3 linked regions of the Homo sapiens genome follow. The protein of the gene in region 1 interacts with the protein of each later gene in a biochemical or structural test. Each region holds a gene or a part of one and is shown in the gene's direction. Other genes may lie near its edges. The genes, in order: TRIM14, DHX58 and RNF125.

Evidence for each region.
Region 2: the proteins of TRIM14 (region 1) and DHX58 form a complex in vitro, tested with the Homo sapiens proteins (one study listed by BioGRID).
Region 3: of the proteins of TRIM14 (region 1) and RNF125, one has a biochemical effect on the other in vitro, tested with the Homo sapiens proteins (one study listed by BioGRID).

Annotation. Positions count from the first base shown.
Region 1 is NC_000009.12:98,088,118-98,095,226, reverse strand, and holds part of TRIM14 (tripartite motif-containing protein 14), read left to right. Parts: intron 1-197; coding exon 198-360; intron 361-3,225; coding exon 3,226-3,318; intron 3,319-7,109.
Region 2 is NC_000017.11:42,102,628-42,109,736, reverse strand, and holds part of DHX58 (ATP-dependent RNA helicase DHX58), read left to right. Parts: intron 1-350; coding exon 351-467; intron 468-1,628; coding exon 1,629-1,755; intron 1,756-1,941; coding exon 1,942-2,133; intron 2,134-3,747; coding exon 3,748-4,001; intron 4,002-4,569; coding exon 4,570-4,719; intron 4,720-4,809; coding exon 4,810-4,971; intron 4,972-5,938; coding exon 5,939-6,129; intron 6,130-7,109.
Region 3 is NC_000018.10:32,021,746-32,028,854, forward strand, and holds part of RNF125 (E3 ubiquitin-protein ligase RNF125), read left to right. Parts: intron 1-7,109. UniProt on the Homo sapiens protein: E3 ubiquitin-protein ligase that mediates ubiquitination and subsequent proteasomal degradation of target proteins, such as RIGI, MAVS/IPS1, IFIH1/MDA5, JAK1 and p53/TP53.

The DNA of each region.
Region 1 (7,109 bases):
CATGGCTCCCACCTCAGGGATGCCGTATGGTCTCTCCAGGGCTCTGCTCCTGCAGGCATGGCCTGGGCTGACCATAGGTGCCAGGCCAACGTGGAGCCTGGGCATGCTGGTGTGGGTTTGTTCCTGGGTGCAGCACAGGAGGCTGGGATGCTGCCTGCATCTCCCAGAGCCACCCTCACCCCCGTGTGCCCACACAGGCATACACGGCCACCGAGCAGGAGATGCAGCAGCAGATGAGCCTCGGGGAGCTGTGCCATCCCGTGCCCCTCTCCTTTGAGCCCGTCAAGAGCTTCTTTAAGGGCCTCGTGGAAGCCGTGGAGAGTACATTACAGACGCCATTGGACATTCGCCTTAAGGAAAGTAAGTCGCCGAGTGACCAACTTTGTGTCCTTAACTCCCCTAGTGTCCTTTAGCCCAGAGACGAATGCAAAGATCATCTCCCTACATCCTGTCTCTCCCACACTGAGGCCCTTGGCTGGGCGGTCAGGGGCTCCTGGGCCTGGTGCCCAACCCACCCTCACCACTTCACCTCCAACCCTTCCTGAGACTGAGACCTGCCCTTCTCCAGTCACACTGCCCTGCTTCTGCCCCTCAGATTGCTCCTGGGAGCCTGCCACATCTCAGCCTTGCTCTGGGCTCCCAGCTGGAATGACCAACTCTTCCTCCTTCTCTTCCTCTGGCTGGGGCCAAGGCCTGGCACCCCTTCGAGGCAGACTGGCACAGCTGCGCCCACCTGGGAAGCCCTTTCCTGCCAGCCCAGCCCTGACTCACTCTCTCCTTTAGCCATCTCCCCTCTCCCTTCCCGCTCCAGGGCCTGCCCATGTCCTGCTAGAGGGTGCTCATGAAGTGGATACATGGACCCCCCTCCTTGCCCCTTGTAAGCACGTGAAGGGCAGAAACCAGCTTTAGGTCCAACTCTGAGGTCCCCCCAGGGCCTGGCACAAAACATGTACTCAAAAATATCTGTTCTTTGATTCATTTATGCATTCATTCATTCATTCACCTCTGCTATCATGATTCATTCAGAACATTTATCAAGCCCCTCTTATATGCCAGGCATAGCAGGGCACAAAACAAAGCTCCTTCTCCTCTTTTGGTGCTCACAGTCTTCGTAGGGGAAGACAGACCGTACACAAACATGTCAGGTGACAGGAACTGCTATACTGCTATAAAGAATAATAAAGGCCGGGCGTGGTGGCTCACGCCTGTAATCCCAGCACTTTGGGAGGCCGAGGTGGGTGGATGATGAGGTCAGGAGTTTGAGACCAGCCTGGCCAACATGGTGAAACCCCATCTCTACTACAAATACAAAAATTAGCCAGGCATGGTGGCATGCACCTGTAATCCCAGCTACTCGGGAAGCTGAGGCAGGAGAATTGCTTGAACCCGGGAGGTGGAGGTTGCAGTGAGTTGAGATCATGCCACTGTACTTCAACCTGGGTGACAGAGCAAGACTCTGTCTCAAAAATAACAATAATAATAATAATAATAAACCAGGGCAGGATGGAAGACAGGAAAGTGACAAGGAGGAGGAGCTGTTTTATATAAGCAGTTGGGATGGCCTCTGAGAAGGGGACACTCAAGGTGGCCCAAAGGAAGCATTCATTCTGCAGGTTCTGTGGGTCTGAAGGGCCAGAGAGCACAGTGGTCATAGGCACGGCCTCTGGAGCTAGGCCTCCTGGGTTCCTATCCGAGGTCTACCACTTGGAACCCTGCTGAACCCTGCCATCTTAGACACGGCTCCTCCCTTTTCCATGCCTCTGTTTCTGCATCTGTAAAGTGGAGACCATAATGCAGTCGCCTCTCCTGGGCTGCTGTGAGGATTAAATGAGCTCTTACACATATAGCGCTCAGGCATATTAAGCACCACGTATGTCTTGGCGATTATGATTGCTGCTGCTGTTACGTCTGGGGGAGGTATTCTAGACAGAGGGAAAAGCAAGGGTGGAGGTCCTGAGGCGCGATGGGAGTGAGCTGGCCATATCGAAGGAGCAGCAATGGGGACAACAGGAGTGGACGTAGGGTCACAGGGGAGAGAGGAAAGAGATCAGAATCCAAGGATTTGGACGTGGGCAACTCGCAGAAGGAAACTGTCATTTTCTGAAGTGAGAAAGAGTATTTAGGACTGGAGGGAATGAAGTGAACCTGTTAGATTTGAGAAGTTGGACTTCCCATGTGGTGGTATCGCCTCGGCAGTAGGACCTATGATTCTAGAGTTCTGGGGAGAGGGGAGAGGCTTTTGCCTTGATGAAAGAACAACTTCAGCCAAATTAAATTTAAAGGAGTTTAAATGAGCAATGAACGATTCATGAATCCGGCAGCCCTCTGAGCCACAGTGCACTCAGAGACTCCAGCACAGCCACGTGGTGGAAGAAGATTTAGGGACAGAAAAAGGAAAGCGACGTACAGAAAACAGAAGTGAGGTACAGAAGCAGCTGGATTGGTTACAGCTCGGCGTTCGCCTAATTTGAACACAATTTGAACAGTTGGCTACATCTGATTGGCCAAAACTTGGTGATTGGCACAAGTGCAGGCTACGGTCTGTTTACACCTCCACTTGTTATTGTTCATGACGTACAGAAAAATATGTAGGCCGAACTTAAAAGATGTAAGGAGGAGCTTTAGGCAAAACTTGATTTAAACAGCCTGCAGGTGGGCTTCCCACAGATCTCTACAGGCCCCTGTGATGAGTGCTGGGAGTGATGGGGGCGGAAGGCACTTCTGCGGAGGTGCTGAGTGAGCTGCGGCCCCAATAGCTGGGAAGGAGGCAACCTGGGCAAGGGGGGAAGGGTGTGGGGGGGCTGTCCAGGCAGAGGGCACAGCAAGTGCCAAGGGCCCTGGGTGCCCCTGCTGTGCCCGCTTGTTGGGATAGACTCCCCTCCTTCTTTCTTTCTGAGCACTCAGACCTTCCTGAGGACTCAGCTCTACTTTCTTGTTTTCCATCTTTACCCTGGAATCTGCACATCTTCCCTGAGTCGCCGCCCATCCTTGAGTGTTGGATCCAGTAGTTGTTCGCGCCTCAGCTCCTCCTCCTATTTAGGACTCTCCCACACCAGCCTTGTCATCCTGGGGTTTTCCTGTCCCTGTGAATTCACATAAATCCCTTAAATCTGCCTGGCTCTTGGGCGAGATTATGCGAATCTCCAGTTGTGTGGTATTTTTAGCACGTCTTATTTGTCTGCTTGCATAAGCTCCGGGCGCTCATTTCTCAACAATTCCTTACAGGCATAAACTGCCAGCTCTCAGACCCTTCCAGCACCAAGCCAGGTACCTTGTTGAAAACCAGCCCCTCACCAGAGCGATCGCTATTGCTGAAATGTAAGACCCCCGGGAGTGGGGATAGGGTGGAGACGGTGGAGATGGTGGGATGTTGGGTGGAGGAGGATCATGGAAATGGAGGTCCCTCTTTTTTTCTCATTAGAATTTATTTATTTATTTATTTTAAGAACTTGTTTTTTAAAAAATGTTTATTATTAAAGGCAATAAAACAATACATGTTCATTGTAGAAAAATTAGAAAATGAAAGAAAAAAGTTACTCATAATCCCTCTTCTGTGAATAACTGCTATTATTATTTGTCCTTTTAGCTTTTTTAGCACATCTAATATGCATATAATGATATATTTAATATATCTTTTTATGTTACAAACGTGGTGTCATACTATACATACTGTTTTGTCATCTGTTTTCATTTACTGATATATTATGAACATATATATATTTGGGATTTATACAGTGAGCCACTGTGCCCAGCTAATATTATCACTATGTGTGTGTGTGTGTGTGACCGAGTCTTGCTCTGGAGTGCAGTGGTGCAGTCATGGCTCACTGCAGCCTCGACCTCTTGGGCACAAATGATTTTCCCACCTCAGCCTCCCTCATAGCTGGGACTATCAGTGTGTGCCACCATGCCCAGCTAATTTTTTATTTTTATCATTGTTTTTAGAGGTTGCATGGCATTGCATTGAATGGATGTGTCATATTTAGCCAATCTCATAATGTTGGATGTTTACATTTTCATTTCTAAAACAATGCTGTAATAAACATCCATTCTTGTACACATTTGTTGAATTGAATTAATGAATGAGAGAATGAACACACCATACCTCATTTTCAGATTATTTTTTAGGAGTAATTTCTCAAGTGGAATTACTGGGTGTCAACCTAAAAAAGACTCAATCTAAAGAAGGCTCAGTATCCAGTTAGCAGAGTTTATTCAAGTGCAAAGTAACCATCAGGAGACAGAGGGAAACCAAAGAATGGTGATCACTGCCCCTGGTGTTGGGAGGGGGACAGTGAATATCAAAACAGAGGCACTGAATAAATTTACATTTTCCATACAAAGGCTAACATACTGATTTAAAGGCCGAGCACGGTGGCTCACACCTGTAATCCCAGCACTTTGGGAACCCAAGGCAGGTGGATCACTTGAGGTCAGCAGTTCGAGACCAGCCTGCACAACATGGTGAAACCCTGTCTCCACTAAAAATACAAAAATTAGCTGGGCATGGTGGCATGCACCAGTAGTCCTAGCTGCTCAGGAGACTGAGGCAGGAGAATCGCTTGAACCCGGGAGGCGAAGGTTGCAGTGAGCCGAGGTCGCACTACTGCACTCCAGCCTGGCAACAGAGCAAGACTCCGTCTTAAAAAAAAAAAAAAAAAAAAAAGTGCACAAATCAAAAATGTGCAGATCAATCAGCTCAATGATTTTTTAAAAAGGAAACATATTTTGTAACCACCTTCAGATCAAGAAATGGAAATTTCCACTCCCCAGAAGTCTTCCTCATGTGCCTTCTTGTTTACTATCCCCAAAGGGGATCCACTCTCCAGACTTCTAGGACTATAGGTTAGTTTTACCTGTTTTTGAACTTTCAGTAGATCATTCACACTATACCCTTCTGTGTTTTGCTTCTTTCACTCAATATGAGATTTATCCATTTTTGTATATTGACATACTGAGTGGCTGTTATAAATTCACTTAGTACTTCTAAGCTATCTACAGATTATTTGGGTTTTTGTGTAAATAAGCATGTCACCTATGAATAATAATCTTTCATTTCCCCGATCTTTATTCTTTCCTTTCACTTCTTTTTCGTGCCTTGAGTTACTGTCTACTACATTTAGAACATTGTTGAATAGAAGTGGTTATAATGAGCAGCATTTTCTCCCACCTTAGACATATATCCAACAGAAATGCATACATATGTGAATCAAAAGACCTGCACAAGAATGTTATGTGACCGAAACACAGGTTCAGTTGCTCAACGCTTTGCAGAGTTCAATTAACAAGAGCGAGGTCTGGTATAAAGAAAGTGGTTTTATTCTAAAGATTAGCTTAGGGGAAGAGGTACAGGCTCCTCCTGCCCTTAACGGTACCGCCTCACTTTTGGGGCAGAAAGCAGAGGCTTTTAAATGGGGACTTTGTATGAATGGCATGCAGGGAAGGAGCAAGCAGATGGGGGTCTATATGACTCATTTTGATGCGTTTTCTACCAAGTGGTTGAGCTGGTGCCATTGAGGGCAGAACTAGGTTGTAATGTGGCCGTTGTCTTGAGATGCTGTCCGGGTGGAAGAGTTCTGTTGAAGGCATACTTTATGTTGTAAATTGACTGTTGTCTCTTAAGGCAATCTCCTGGTGGGAGAAAGTTCTGGTTCTAGACCCTCTAAGTAGGTAGATAAGTTTGCCCTGTAGGGACTATCTGGTGAAGGGAAGGTAATGGTTATAATTACATTTCTAAAGAGCTAAGTAGAGGCAGGGCACAGTGGCTCACACCTGTAACCACAGCACTTTGGGAGGCTGAGGCAGGCGGATCACCGGAGGTCAGGAGATCAAGACCAGCCTGGCCAACATGATGAAACCCTGTCTCTACTGAAAATACAAAAATTAGCCAGGCGTGGTGGCAGGTGCCTGTAATCCTAGTTACTAGGGAGCCTTAGGTAGGAGAATCGCTTGAACCCAGGAGGCCGAGGTTGCAGTGAGTCGAGATCACACCACTGCACTCCAGCCCGGGCAACAAGAGTGAAACTCCATCTTAAAAAAAATAAAAATAAAGAGCTAAGTAGGAAGTGGGAGACAGGAGAAAAAGGGGGAAAATCTTAAAAATAATTCATTCTCTTTCTCTTAGAAAAATGCTCTTTTTCTTAGAAAACTCAGTCTCTGTTACACGTTTACAGTTATAGCAACATTAGTCACAATAGGCAACACGGAAACAATCCAAATGTCCATGGAAAACTGTTTGGCCTTGTTTATGAAAGCTGAATATCCACATACCCTGTGATCCAGACTTAAAAAACAACAACAACAACAACAAAAAAAACTTCATGTGTACATACATGGTGTAATGCAAAGAGAAATGTTAATGAGAGTTTAAATCACTACAAACTTTGGGGAGGATAGTTTTGCAATATGTATCAAAGACCTTAAAAAAATACCCATTGACCCAGCAATTCCTGTTTTAGGAGTATATTCTACAGAAGCAATCAGATACGTAAAAATGTAATTGTATTAGTGGTTTCAAAAGCTTTTTAAACGGAGGACTAAGTTATGCGTCCAAACATCAAAATTTTAGAATCTCCACTAAAATGCTCTTGTGAAAGGATATTATGATGTGTCAAAATGCCTCACAAGTAGATCAATCAATTTTAAAAAGCAGATTACCTAACGTCATGTATGGTGTGACACCAATATTAAGAAAAGCTATAAAAATTAGCCGGGCGTGGTGGTGGGCGCCTGTAGTCCCAGCTACTCGGGAGGCTGAGGCAGGAGAATGGCCTGAACCTGGGAGGCGGAGCTTGCAGTGAGCGGAGATCGCGCCACTGCACTCCAGCCTGGGCAACAGAGCGAGACTCCGTTTCAAAAAAAGAAAAAAAAGAAAAAGAAAAGCTATAAAGCAGCAAGGGGAGGGGAAAGATAGGAAGTACACACACCCTAATGTTAACAGTGATAGGATTAGTTTTAATTAAATTTGTATTAATTGGCAACAAATTTCACGGCACAAAATACAGACAGTATAAGGGATGTGCAGCAGAGTGATCTCTTCTTCCCCTTTCCCCAAGACCCCGCCCCAGGGGCAGTCGCGGTTTAAAGGGGTCTGTCACCCCTTCCTTGGG
Region 2 (7,109 bases), on another chromosome or scaffold:
TTTTAGTAGAGGTGGGGTTTCACCACGTTGGCCAGGCTGTCTCAAACTCCTGACCTCAGGTGACCCGCCCGCCTTGGCCTCCCAAAGTGCTGGGATTACAGGTGTGAGCCACCATGCCTGGCCGGTTCTATTATTCTTTTACTGGTTTATTATCTGCCTCTCCAACTCCAATCTGAGTTCCTTTGTATCCCCAGTGCCTAGAACAAGACGGGCACAGAGAGGGCGAGCAATATTTGAGTAGACGAATGCCCACATTCTCCTGTCCTCAGCTGGGATCCATCCTGCCCCAAATCTTTGACCATTGTCCCCACAGACCCTCCCTTTCCAGTAAAGTCCTCTGTTGCCCCCAGCTCTGTGCCAACTTGGACACGTGGTGCATCATGTCACCCCAGAACTGCTGCCCCCAGCTGCAGGAGCACAGCCAACAGCCTTGCAAACAGTACAACCTCTGCCACAGGCGCAGCCAGGTACGCGGGGGCAGGGACACGGCGAGAGCGGGAGCCGGTGTGAAGTTAGGACACCTAGGCTTGGGCCCTGACTCTGCCCTCACTAGCTCTGTGACTTCAGGTCACTTGCTATGTATCCAAGCCTCAATTTCTCCTTTCTGTGAAATGGGGCAGATACAGCCCATGCCCACAGCCCGCTCTTTGGATTGACTCAGAAGGCACCACTGGTGTCTGTCACATCACTGTCATGCTGGGGAGTGCACTACAAACCAGAGAGCAGGGATACTTTGTGCTGAGGCTCTACTGAGCCCTCTCTAGTGTGGACACGGCCTCGTGTCTGCCATGACTGGACTGGACAAGGACTAGGTGTCAGGTCCATAACTATACCAAATGTTACACTTGGGGTCAGGTTTGAGCCCATGCTGTGGTCTGGAGGGAGGGAGTGAGTGAGCAGATAGCTGAAAGAACCCTTGGGGGGCCATAGGCAGGTGAAATGTAGTTTTATTCAGCAGCGGCTCTCTCACACTGTCCACCTTTATCTGGGCTGTCTGCTCCGGCCCTGTGGCTCCTGCTGCCCCCACGCCTGCAGCTGCTCTCCCTGGCCGGCAAGGCCAGCTCTGTCAGGGTCAGCAGCTTAACTCTTTCCCTCTGGGCACAAGCGGGTTCCTGGCTCCCCACTGCCCACCTTCAAGGCGACCGGCTGTCCCTTGCAGGGGTTAGTAGCATTATTCTCTCTCTGGGCGAGCAAGCGTGCCCTGCCGTGCCGAGCTGAACCAAGCTCCGTGAACAGCGTCAGCAGGGCAGTTTTACCTTCTACTGACAGTAGAGTCCAGTATGAACTTACACAAACAGGTTATATAGCAAGTGGAGTACGTGCCTGCCCCCCAAACTCGCTGAGTCACTCTGGCCCGGATGTCCGCCTCGGCCTATTCCTTGACCAAAGCACGTCCATGTGCCTTACACTAGGCATCACCGTGCCCAGGCCAAAGGGTAAGAGCACATCGCGGGTGAGACAGGGCAGGACTCCCCCACACCCTAGCCGGCCTCCCTCTGGAGCTCACACCACAGCTAAGACAGATGGGTGAGGCAGTCGCGGTGTGCTACACGCCGGGGTCAGCACCCCCACTGGGTGCCCATCCTCCAACGTGTATGGGAATCCCCTCCAACTCTCCTCTTGCTCAGGATCCGTTTGGGGACTTGCTGAAGAAGCTCATGGACCAAATCCATGACCACCTGGAGATGCCTGAGTTGAGCCGGAAATTTGGGACGCAAATGTATGAGCAGCAGGTGGTGAAGCTGAGTGAGGCTGGTGAGAGGGGCAGCCCTTCTGGCGGAGGCGAGGATGTGGGAGTGGTCAGGGGCGGGGCCTGCCGGGGCGGAGGCCTTTGGGGCGGGGCCTATCCACCCCAGGGGTGGAGTCGAGTGGGACGGCCCTATGGGGCAGGGCAGGGGGCGGGGCTGTGGGCTGCTCAGACCCTGCGCCCTCTTCCCGCAGCGGCTTTGGCTGGGCTTCAGGAGCAACGGGTGTATGCGCTTCACCTGAGGCGCTACAATGACGCGCTGCTCATCCATGACACCGTCCGCGCCGTGGATGCCTTGGCTGCGCTGCAGGATTTCTATCACAGGGAGCACGTCACTAAAACCCAGATCCTGTGTGCCGAGCGCCGGCTGCTGGCCCTGTTCGATGGTGAGGGGCGGGAGGGGGCTTCGGGGCCGGGGATGATGGGACCTGGATGCGAGGTCAGAGGCCAGGGCACAGGCGCCAAGGTCGGATGGGAAGGTGCCCGTGAGGATACTGGTGGAGATCCTATTTTTCTAACCAAAATCCAAGGCCATGGGTAGGACTGATTTATTTCCTCATTTGTGAAGGTTTTTGCTTAGTTGTTAAAATTAATTAACATTGTTGACTTTTTTTTTTTTTTTAATAGTCGGGGTCTTGCTCTGTCACCCAGGCTGGAGGACAGTTGTGCAATCATAGCTCACTGCAACCTCGACCTAATGGGCTCAAGTAATTCTCACCCTTCAGCTTCCCAAGTAGCTAGGCGTACAGGTGGGCACCACCACTCCCAGCTAATTAAAAAAAATTTTTTTTGAAGAGGCGGAGTCTTGCTTTGTTGCCCAGGCTGATCTCTAACTCCTGGGCTCAAGTGATCCTCCTGCCTCTGCCTCCCAAAGTGCTGGGATTACAGGTGTGAGCCACTGTGCCCGGCCCAGATTTTTTAAAAGGATTAGCTAGGAGTGGTTCCTTTAGACTGAGAGAGTGAAGCTGAAAGTCAGAGGGTGAAATTTAAGGTTGCAAATCGCAGCACAGGCTGGGGCTCAAGAGATCTGGGTAGCAGAGGTCAGAGTTAAAAGCTCAAGGGTCATCCTGGTCACTGGGGAGAAGAGGGTTCTGGTCTGAGGTTCTGTACTGTATGACCCCGGTGTGAGGCTGGCCTTGAGAGTGGGCTCGGTAGGAGGCATCCTTTTTTGTTTTTGTTTTTGTTTTTTTGAGAGGGAGTCTCGCTCTGTCGCCCAGGCTGGAGTGCAATGGCACCATCCCAGCTCACTACAACCTCCCCCTCCTGGGTTCAAGTGATTCTCCTGCCTCAGCCTCCCGAGTAGCTGGGACTACAAGTGTGCATCACCACGCCCAGCTAATTTTTTTGTATTTTTAGTAGAGACGGGGTTTCACCATATTTGTCAGGCTGGTCTCGAACTCCTGACCTCAGGTGATCCGCTCACCTCACCCTCCCAAAGTGCTGGGATTACAGGCGTGAGCCAATGCACCCGGCCAGGGCATCCTTAAATATGTTCTTGGTGCTGCTGTGGGGGAGTTGAGCAGGAGTTCCATCCTTCCCCCACCCCCCACCCCCCACCTTCTGCACGCCTACAGTCCTATTGCTGTGAGAACCTCCTCCGCCAGTGCCCTCCCCACTCCAAGATCTGAATCCTCTGCCTCTGGGGCTTTTCTTCTTTCTCTTTCTTTCTTTCCCTCCCTCCCTCCCTTCCTTCCCTCCTTCCCTTCTTTCCTTCTCTCTTTCTCTCTCTCTTTCTTTTCCTTTTTTTCTTTCTTTCCCTCCCTCCCTTTCTTTCCTTCTCTCTTTCTCTCTCTCTCTTTCTCTTGCTTTCTTGCTTTCTTTTTTTTTTTCCCAGACAGAGTCTCACTCTGTTACACAGCCTGGAGTGCAGTGGTGCAATCATAGCTCTCTTCAGCCTTGACCTCCTAGGCTTAAGCGATCCTTCTGCCCTCAGCCTCCCAAGTATCTGGGACTACAGACATGTGCCACTACACCCAGCTAAATTTTGGGGTTTTTGACAGACCGCAAGAATGAGCTGGCCCACTTGGCAACTCATGGCCCAGAGAATCCAAAACTGGAGATGCTGGAAAAGATCCTGCAAAGGCAGTTCAGTAGCTCTAACAGCCCTCGGGGTATCATCTTCACCCGCACCCGCCAAAGCGCACACTCCCTCCTGCTCTGGCTCCAGCAGCAGCAGGGCCTGCAGACTGTGGACATCCGGGCCCAGCTACTGATTGGGGCTGGGAACAGCAGCCAGAGCACCCACATGACCCAGGTGTGGGCTTCGGGGAAAGATGCTGGCGCTGGGAGGGATTCCATAGGAGAGAAGTGCGGGGAACAGGGTCTTCAGCACAGAGAGGTGGGGGCAGGGAGACCCTGGGGAAAGAGAAAGTTGACTATCCCCAGGCAGAGGGGCAAGGAGCTAGGGGAGAGGGGCGGACACTGACCTCCCCAGTGCTGGAGCCTCTCCCAGTCTGGAGGTCCTTGGGGGCAGAAGGTTGGGCATGGGGGTCCGTAGGGAAAGAGGTGGGTGATGCAGTTCCTCAGGGCACAGGATCAGGTCTGGGGTCCCTTGCAGAAGACTATGGCTTGAGAGTTTTTCCTAGACTAGAGGGGCAGGGACCCTTAGGAGTCCCTAGGGAAGATAGGGGTTGGACAGTTACCTGGGAAGATGGGCAAGATCCTGGGGGTACCTGGGGATAAAGATGGGATTCAAGTACTCTAGGGAGATGGACCAAGATTGGGAGTGAGGGCTGAACCAGAAGAGGCTACTCTGGCAGGTGGAGTCAGTCTGAGCCTCCTCATGTACCAGCCTCTTTCTCCTCCCTGCCCTCCGCCTGCAGAGGGACCAGCAAGAAGTGATCCAGAAGTTCCAAGATGGAACCCTGAACCTTCTGGTGGCCACGAGTGTGGCGGAGGAGGGGCTGGACATCCCACATTGCAATGTGGTGGTGCGTTATGGGCTCTTGACCAATGAAATCTCCATGGTCCAGGTACTCACATCCTCCTCCACTCAGCCGCCCTTATAGGATCCTGTGTGGGGCCCCAGCCCAACTCAGGACACCCCTTGTCTCTCTTCCCAGGCCAGGGGCCGTGCCCGGGCCGATCAGAGTGTATACGCGTTTGTAGCAACTGAAGGTAGCCGGGAGCTGAAGCGGGAGCTGATCAACGAGGCGCTGGAGACGCTGATGGAGCAGGCAGTGGCTGCTGTGCAGAAAATGGACCAGGCCGAGTACCAGGCCAAGGTCTGCAGGCAGCCTGCATGCCCTGTGGGAGGGATGGGGAGGAGGGAGCCCCTCCCTGGCAGGTTTCTGACTGCACACATACGTCCCCCTGTCCCCTCTACATCTCGGGGCTAACTTTGGCCACCTAGGGAAGGTTTAAATAAGGGCCGGGGTGGGGCTGCCAGGGAAGGCAGTACCTGGACTCCAGAAGGCCTTGGGAACAGGCCTTGTCCAAGGCTCTTTATTTATCTTTGCCATGAGATACTTTATGTATCTGGAAGAGCTGCATTACAGCCTTTCTGGAACCAGGCAGAGGGGACAAGATAAGTCCACGTGCAGAAGATAAGCCCAGAACTAGGACTTATATCATCAGTTCCCCTGAGGCAGGGCCACCACCATCCTGCCTTGTCCAGGGTGCTCCCTGTTGTCCCAGCATAATTGTTAATGATGCCCCATGACAGATTCACAGAAGCAGCTTTGCCTAAAGTCCTTCAAGATTGAGCAGGAAAGCTTACCCCTCCCACTGTTGCCCCCGACTACTCATACTGTTTTTCTCCATAGCTGTTTTTTTTTTTTTCCCCGAGACGGAGTCTCACTCTGTCACCCAGGCTGGAGTGCATGGCACAATCTCCACCTCCTGGGCTCAAGCAATTCTCTTGCCTCAGCCTCCCGAGTAGCTGGGATTACAGGCATGCGCCACCATGCCCGGCTAATTTTGTATTTTCAGTAGAGATGGGGTTTCACCATGTTGCCCAGGCTGGTCTCGAACTCCTGACCTCGTGATCCACCCGCCTTGGCCTCCCAAAATGCTGGGATTACAGGCATGAGTTACTGCATCATCACAGCAATAGAGCTTCTTTTAAGCTCCAGGGAGGGTTAAGGAAAGTCTCTTCCAGGTACAAATGATCTTAGTTCTTTGGGAACCTTTTGTCCCCCAAGGAACGTTCTCTTAGGCCCCAGCCATGCCTGGTGTCTCCTCCCACCCCAGATCCGGGATCTGCAGCAGGCAGCCTTGACCAAGCGGGCGGCCCAGGCAGCCCAGCGGGAGAACCAGCGGCAGCAGTTCCCAGTGGAGCACGTGCAGCTACTCTGCATCAACTGCATGGTGGCTGTGGGCCATGGCAGCGACCTGCGGAAGGTGGAGGGCACCCACCATGTCAATGTGAACCCCAACTTCTCGTGAGACCTGTGGAAGGGGCTACTGGGATGGGGGCCTGGGAATCCTTCCCATCCAGACAGTGCTTTGAAGCTTTGGGAAGCTAAAGAGCATTGTAGCAAGTACTTTGCATTTTCACAATAATCTGGTTAGACAGGTTTTATCCCTGTCTCCATTTTACAGGCAAGGAAATAGAGGCTCAGAGAGGCTATGTGACTTGCCCAAGTTCCCACAGCCACTATCTGGTTGAGCAAGAACTGGAATTCAGGATACTAAGTGTCAAAAGACCACACATTGACCCTCTGGTCCTACCTATTCCGAAGATATCAAGAGAGCTTGGCCATCCCTGGGCCATCCTCCATCCACTATCTCCTAGAGAGTAACCTTCCCCCATCCTCCATCCATTCATTATGTTACCCTCTGTGTTCCGGGCCACTGTGCCAAGGATCTTCACACAGATTTTCTCAATTGAGGAGGTTGCATTTCAGCTAGGTCTCAATGGGTCTGGTTTGAATGTGAGCGAATGAGAAGGTAACCATGGAGGGCCAGGTGCAGTGGCTCACGCCTGTAATTCCAACACTTTGGGAGGCGGAGGTGGGTAGATCACTTGAGGTTAGGAGTTCAAGACCAGTCTGGCCAACATATTGAAACCCCTTCTCTACTAAAAAAAAATACAAAAATTAGCTGGGCGTGGTGGCCCATGCTTGTAATCCCAGCTACTTGGGTGGCTGAGGCATGAGAATCACTTGAACCCGGGAGGCAAGCCAAGATCGCACCACTGCACTCCAGCCTGGGCAATAGAGTGAGACTCTGCCTTTAAAAAAAAAAAAGCGACACCAGTTGACCTGAGTGGAAGGGACTGTGAATAATGAGATTTAGAAAAAGACAGACTAGCCCGTGGAAGATTTGAAAGGTCAGGTGTGAAAGTGTAGCCTTTATCCAGGAGGTTCCTCTTAGGAATCTTGGATAGATTTTAAGGAACAGAATGTCAGGGCAGATTTAT
Region 3 (7,109 bases), on another chromosome or scaffold:
TTACCATTTACAATATTTTTCCTTCTACTAAAGGATAATATAAATTTGCAAAATGTTAAATTTTTTGTTTAATCTTTTTCTTTGTTAAAGTGAATAGGAAACTAGCAACTGGAAAAATAGTCATAAAATAGCATTACAAGGGCTGAACAAATTGCCTTTCCTCTCTTTACTGTTCTTTGTTTTGACAAATCTATGTCCATTGTTCTGGCTGTGGGCAGAATTTCCATATTCCTCCTTTTGGCAAACTTACTTGGTCCCCTTCCACTTTATAAATGTTAACCAGAGTCCTTTCTGCAGTAGAGATTGTGAGCGTTAATACCATTTGTACATTCTAAATGAATTACTCTTTTCCATTGAAATTAAGTTGGAAAACGAATAAATGCAAATGAACCTTCTGTATTTTATTATCCCATATTGAAGCTACATTTTCAGACATGTTGAACTAGGTGGTTTATGCTGATTTTTGTTTGTAAACCTATTTCAAGTCAAACAAGTTTAATAATAACAACAGTACCTTGAATGAATATGTAAGAGCACTTTATAAGTTGTATTGTGATGCAGTAGTAACTGGCCCTTACAGAGAGCTGGATTTGAAATTCACCTCTGCCACTAGCCAGATGTGTGACCACTTTAGGGAAATTTGAATTTGATTTTTTTCCCCTAAAGTTTTGATCATTTGAGTCTATGAAACAAACTGCTAATAGATTAACAAGGGGGGAAAAGCTTACAAATGTATTAATGAGCATATGGGCATGGGAGTCATACAAAATATGAAAACTGAGAGAAAGGGCCAGATGCTTGATGCTTTTATACCATCTTGAGGTTACAGCAGAGTAGGGGCTTGGAACATGGTTATGGGAGGGAGAAAGAAAGAAGGGGCTGGGGCAAAGATGGTCTAGTTATGCAGATGAAACTTCATAGATAGCAGCTCCTAGAAAGAATAGGCATGAGCCTGTGTTAAGTTGCTCTGTCAGACCTTCGTAGGTGTCAGACTTTCAGTTAATAATTTCCTAGGTACAGATAAGGGGGTGCCTCCAAGAAAGCCTGGTTGTTTATTTCACCAGTGTAGATTTTCTCTACAGATGCAAGTCTCCTCCACAAAAGGCAGCTTTTCAGGGTTATTCCTGTGGGAATATATCAAAGAAGTACATTTTGGGGTGAAATATTTTCAGTTTCCTTTAGTCCCCCATTTAAAGCTTAATTTTTAAAACATTAAACATTTCCTTTATTTTTATTATTTATTTATTTATTTTTAGCGGTGAGATCTCACTCTGCCACCCAGGCTGCAGTGTAGTGGTGCAATCATGGCTCACTGCAGCCTCCACCTCCTGGGCTCAGCAATCCTCCTGCCTCAGCCTCTCACGTAGCTGGGACTATAAGTGCCTGCCACCATGCCTGGCTATTTTTCACTTATTTGTTTATTTTGAGATGGAGTCTCACTCTGTCACCTAGGCTGGAGGGCAGTGGCGTGATCTCAGCTCGCTGCAACCTCTGCCTCCCAGGTTCAAGTGACTGTCCCGCCTCAGCCACTCTAGTAGCTGGGATTACAGACATGCACCACCACACCTGGCTAGTTTTTGTATTTTTTGTAGAGGCAGGGTTTCGCCATTTTGCCCAGGCTGGTCTTGAACCCCTGAGCTCAGGTGATTTGCCTGCCTCGGCCTCCCAAAGTGCTGGAATTACAGGAGTGAGCCACTGCACCCAGCCAAGAAAGTGACAATTCTTTACATACCGCAAGGTCAGGATTTTGTAAGGGAACCATATACACAGGGTACCAGGCCAATCTTTTTCTAAGTCTGTTGGCTTTTTAATGTCAATTTCAGTCCCTCAAAACAGTTTGATCATGTATCTAAGTATGACATTCCAGTTAAAGCCTTGCTAAAATAACCACTGTCTCCAATTATGTCCTGTTCAGACTGTTACTGAACTTATGCATGTAACTATATTGCCATGAAATAGGAATACTCAAAACCCAGTTTGTGAATCCAAAGAGAAAAAGGTAAATTATTTTGCTCACAAAAGTATACTTGGCCAGGTGCAGTGGCTCATGCCTGTAATCCCAGGACTTTGGAAGGCCGATGCAGGAGGATGGCTTGAGACCAGCAGTTTGTGACTAGCCTGGGCAACATAGTGAGACCCCATCTCTACTACACAAAAGTCTTGTTCAAAAGAGAAAACCATATTTTACTTTTGAATCAGTATATCAATAATAAATTTAAATAAAACCTAATAAACAAGTCCATCCAATTTCAGTCAGCTTTGACCACACAAGATTTACATATCTTTTATAACCTCTTACGATTTTTCTTCTATTTCCAACTTTCTATATTCATTTAGTTTTATCTATATCTTTTTTTATTCTTTCAATTTGAAACAAGCTTCAAATAACTTCTAAACTAGACACAATTCGTTTTCCATTAACAAAAAAATCACACTTCATGCCATTCTTTTTTTTTTTTTTTTCTTTTTTTTTTTAAGATGGAGTCTCACTGTGTCACCCAGGCTGGCGTGCAGTGGCATGATCTTGGCTCATTGCAACCTCTGCCTCCCAGGTTCTCCTGCCTCAGCCTCCTGAGTAGCTGGGATTACAGGCGTGCACCACCACACCCGGCCTCATGCCATTCTTACAACCTTTCTCTCCAAGAACATATCTTGCTTTTTTGGTATATTCTGCCTGAAGAATTGTTTGTCTTATTTCTAGTAGTTTTATTTGTTTGTTTTTAGAGATATGATCTAAGAACAAACTACTCAGTGATGTGATCATAGCCTACTGCAACCTCAAATTCCTGGGCTCAAGCAATCCTCCTACCTCAACCTCCTGAGTAGCTGGAACAACAGGCATGCCCCACCACACCCTGCTAAAATTTTATTTTTTTATAGAGACAGGGTCTGCCTATGTTGCCCAGGCCAATCTTGAATTCCTAGGCTCAAGTGATCCTCCTGCCTTAGCCTCTCAAAGAGCTGGGATTACAGGCATGAGCACTCCCAAACTGCTGGGATTACAGGCATGAGCCACCACACCCAGCCAACTAACAATTTAAAACTAGCTTTATTGCTGGGCACAGTGGCTCACACCTATAATCCCAGCACTTTGGGAGGCCGAGGCAGGCGGATCACTTGAGCCCAGGAGTTGGAAACCAGCCTGGTCAACATGGCGAAACCTTGTCCCTACTGAAAATACTAAAAAATTAGCCGGGCATGGTGGCGCACATGGAGGCTGAGGTGGGAGAATCGCTTGAACCTAGGAGGCAGAGGTTGCAGTGAGCTGAGATCGCACCACTGCACTCCAGCCTGGGTGACAGATTGAGAGTCGTTCTCAAAAAAACAAAAACAAACAAAAAAACCTAGCTTGATTTACCAAAGATTACTAAAGTCATATGAACTTCGAAAAACATTTGGGATAGTTAATTTGTGAGTACTCATTTATTTAGAAGTCAGTTTGGTACTACAGACTATACAAACTCATGTGTAAACATATATATACATGTAGACACAACATATATCACATGCACACACCAGTATCCAAAAGCCAGAGAGATTAGGAAGTTTAATGCAGGAGAGCAGAACTTTAGACATGAGAGGATGGACCCTGCCCATGGCTTCTGTGGCTCAGTGAGAAGACAGAGGACCCCCAATGGCCAGGCGTGGTGGCTCACGCCTGTAATCCCAGCATTTTGGGAGGCTGAGGTGGGGGGATCACCTGAGGTCAGGAGTTCGAGACCAGCCTGCCCAACATGGCGAAACCCCGTTTCTCTAAAAATACAAGAAAATTAGCCAGGGGTGGTGGCAGGCACCTGTAATTCCAGCAACTCAGGAGGCTGAGGCAGGAGAATCACTTGAACCCAGGAGGTGGAGGTTGCAATAGCCGAGATGGCGCCACTGCACTCTAGCCTGGGTGACAAGAGTGAAACTCTGTCTCAAAAAAAAAAAAAAAAAAAAAAAAGAAGACAGAGGACCCCCAAAGAGGGGCGATTGGTGGCTTTTGTGTTTGTGTATGCGTGTGTGTGTGTGTTCCTCAAGGGGTCTCAGGGTTCACAGAAGTCCCCTCTAGGCCTCTTCATGTGGTATCAAAAATGGCAAAAAGGAGGAGGGGCAGAAGGGGAAGGAAATGGAAGAACAAGTCTTAGAGGAGCCAATTTGGGGAGATTTTAAGCTTTCAAAAGGCCAATACAGTTTTAGTTAGTAGGAGTCTGAGGAACAAAAAAAGGTCTAGTTGACTAAGAAGTTCCCAAGGGAGAAACAGGATTTGAAAGAGAACAGAGAATATCAGCTATTAATTAAGCTGGCTTTTGACCACAGAGCCATCTTTCTTAAAAAAAACTTTTTTTTTTTTTTTTGAGATGGAGTCTTGCTCTGTTGCCCACGCTGGAGTGCAACAGCGCAATCTTGGCTCACTGCAACCTCCGCCTCCTGGGTTCAAGCGATTCTCGTGCCTCAGCCTAAAAAATCCTTTTAAATATGCAAGCAGCAAACATTTTGTCCTCTGAGCACCCGGTCTTTTTTTTTTTTTTTTTTTTTTTTGAGATGTAGTCTTGCTCTGTCGTCCAGGCTAGAGTGCAGTGGCCCGATCTGGGCTCACTGCAACCTCTGCCTCCCGGGTTCAAGCAATTCTCCTGTCTCAGCATCCCGAGTAGCTGGGACTACGAGGGTGTGCCACCACACCCACCTAATTTTTGTATTTTTAGTAGAGAAGAGGTTTCACCATGTTGCTCTCAAACTCCTGACCTCAGGTGATCTGCCTGCCTCGGCCTCCCAGAGTGCTGGGATTACAGGTGTGAACCACTGTCCCCAGCCTGAGCACCCAGTCTTTTGTGGGAGCAGAGAGAATGGTAGCTGTGGCATTTCATGCTTCTTTTTCCCCAGACCCTCCCAGCACCCCCTCTTTAGGGGGTACCCACCTCTCCTCACCTGTTTGGTTCCCAGCTGTAGCAGGAGGTATGTCTCTCTGGCCCCGTAGAGGAAGCAGATTAATGGGGAAAAAGTTACTATCACACTCTAAATATAAACCAACGTTTTAACCAAAGGAAATAACTCAAAATCAAAACAAATAAGAACATTTGAGACTGAAACCAAGAAGCTCTTGATGGCTTCAACCAAGGTTTCCTAAGAGGGAGCAAAAGTTGCAACCCTTTCAAAATCCAGATCATTCCCTACAACAGCTTAAAGAAAGCAAGGTTTTGCCAGCCGCAAATGGGGTACAACCCACATTTTTGTCTGGCCATATTCTCTAGGGTTTAAGACAGAGGAAAACAACAGCTGGATGAGAGGCTTACAGAATGAATGGGTACCCCAAAGGTTAAGAAGTCATACAAATATAAATTCAAAACAATTCAAACTAATTTTTTCCAAGTATTTCTTTTATTTTTCCTTCCTGAGTTAAAGGATTTACATCTCCTGGGGTCTTGTTCCCTGAAAGGGAATTGAATCCAGGCTGCAGTGGTGAAAGTGCAGAATCCTTACCACTGGACTACAGGATGGAGTCTTTTTTTTTTTTTTTTAATTTAACAAATTTCATAAGGAATCTAAAGCATGCAATTTGAGTACAAAGGATTTTAACTTTGTTTTAAATCTGATTTCTACTTTTCAAAAATCTTGCCGAGGGAGTTTCTAAACCTGTATTCCTTTTGTATCTTTTCATAGGTACCAATAAGGTAGCTATTTAAGATGTGAGCTCTAAAAAGTTTTCTTTTAAATATAGCCATTCATTTATTTTAAAAGCGATTGAAACCAATACAAGAACTAATTTATATGTTTTTCTCTGTTGATCCAAATTTAGAAAGGGTAAAACACAGAGACTCATACCATCCACATTTGACCAGGCACTATAGGCAGAGATCGGAGAGGAGAACTGACTTGGTTAAAAAAAAATGAGTTTACCTTTCTTTGCTGGCTTTTCATCCGTTGTTCCAAGATCCCATTCATTGGCTCTAGAATGAACAAAATGACTTACATCCTGATCACAACACCAAAAATTTTTCTCCTAAAGATTCGATACTTTGAGTCTATAAAACAGGCAGATAACAGATTAATGGGATAAAAGCATACACATTTATTAATATGCATATGGGCGTGGGAGTCATACAAAATATGAAAACTGAAAGAAAGGGCCAGATGCTTGATGCTTTTATACTTGAGGTTACAGAAGAATGGGGGATTGCAAGATGGCAAGACAAGTTATAAGAGGGAAAAAAAAACATAAGGGGCAAAGCTGTTCTTGTTATACAGATGAAACTTCACAGGTAGAAGCTCTCAGAAAGAATGGGCAGTAGTCGGCCGGGCGCGGTGGCTCACACCTGTAATCCCAGCACTTTGGGAGGCTGAGGCGGGCGGATCATGAGGTCAGGAGATCGAGACCATCCTGGCTAACATGGTGAAACCCCGTCTCTACTAAAAATACAAAAAATTAGCCGGGCATGGTGGCGGGTGCCTGTAGTCCCAGCTACTCAGGAGGCTGAGGCAGGAGAATGGTGTGAACTAGGGAGGCAGAGCTTGCAGTGAGCCGAGATTGCACCACGGCACTCCAGCCTGGGCAACAGAGCGAGACTCCGTCTTAAAAAAAAAAAAAAAAAAAAAAAAAAAATAATAGGTAGTGGTTCATGATAAGTTTTTTTGTTAGACCTTCAAACGTTTCAGACTCTTGGTTAATCTCCTAGATTGGGCAGGGGAGACCTCAGAAAGCCTGCCTATTTATTTCACCAATGTAGACTTTCTCTACCAATGTAGACTTTTCTCTCCCCCACAACATGCAGCTTTTCAGGGTTTTTCCTTTCTGCAGGCCATCTCAATAGCCATCTCGAAGTATGTCAAATAATTATTTTTGGGGGTAAAATATTTTGTTTCCTTTTTTTTTTTTTTTTGAGATGGGGTCTCGCTCTGTTATTCCGGCTGGGGTGCTGTGGCGTGATCTCAGCTCACTGTAACCTCTACCTCCTGAGTAGCTGGGACTACAGGTGTGTGCCAACACGCCCGGCTAATTTTTGTATTTTTTAGTAGAGATGGGGTTTTGCTATGTTGGCCAGACTGGTTTCAAACTCCTGGCCTCAAGTGATCTGCCCACCTCAGCCTCCCAAAATGCTGGGATTACAGGTTGAGCCACCCTGCCCAGCCAA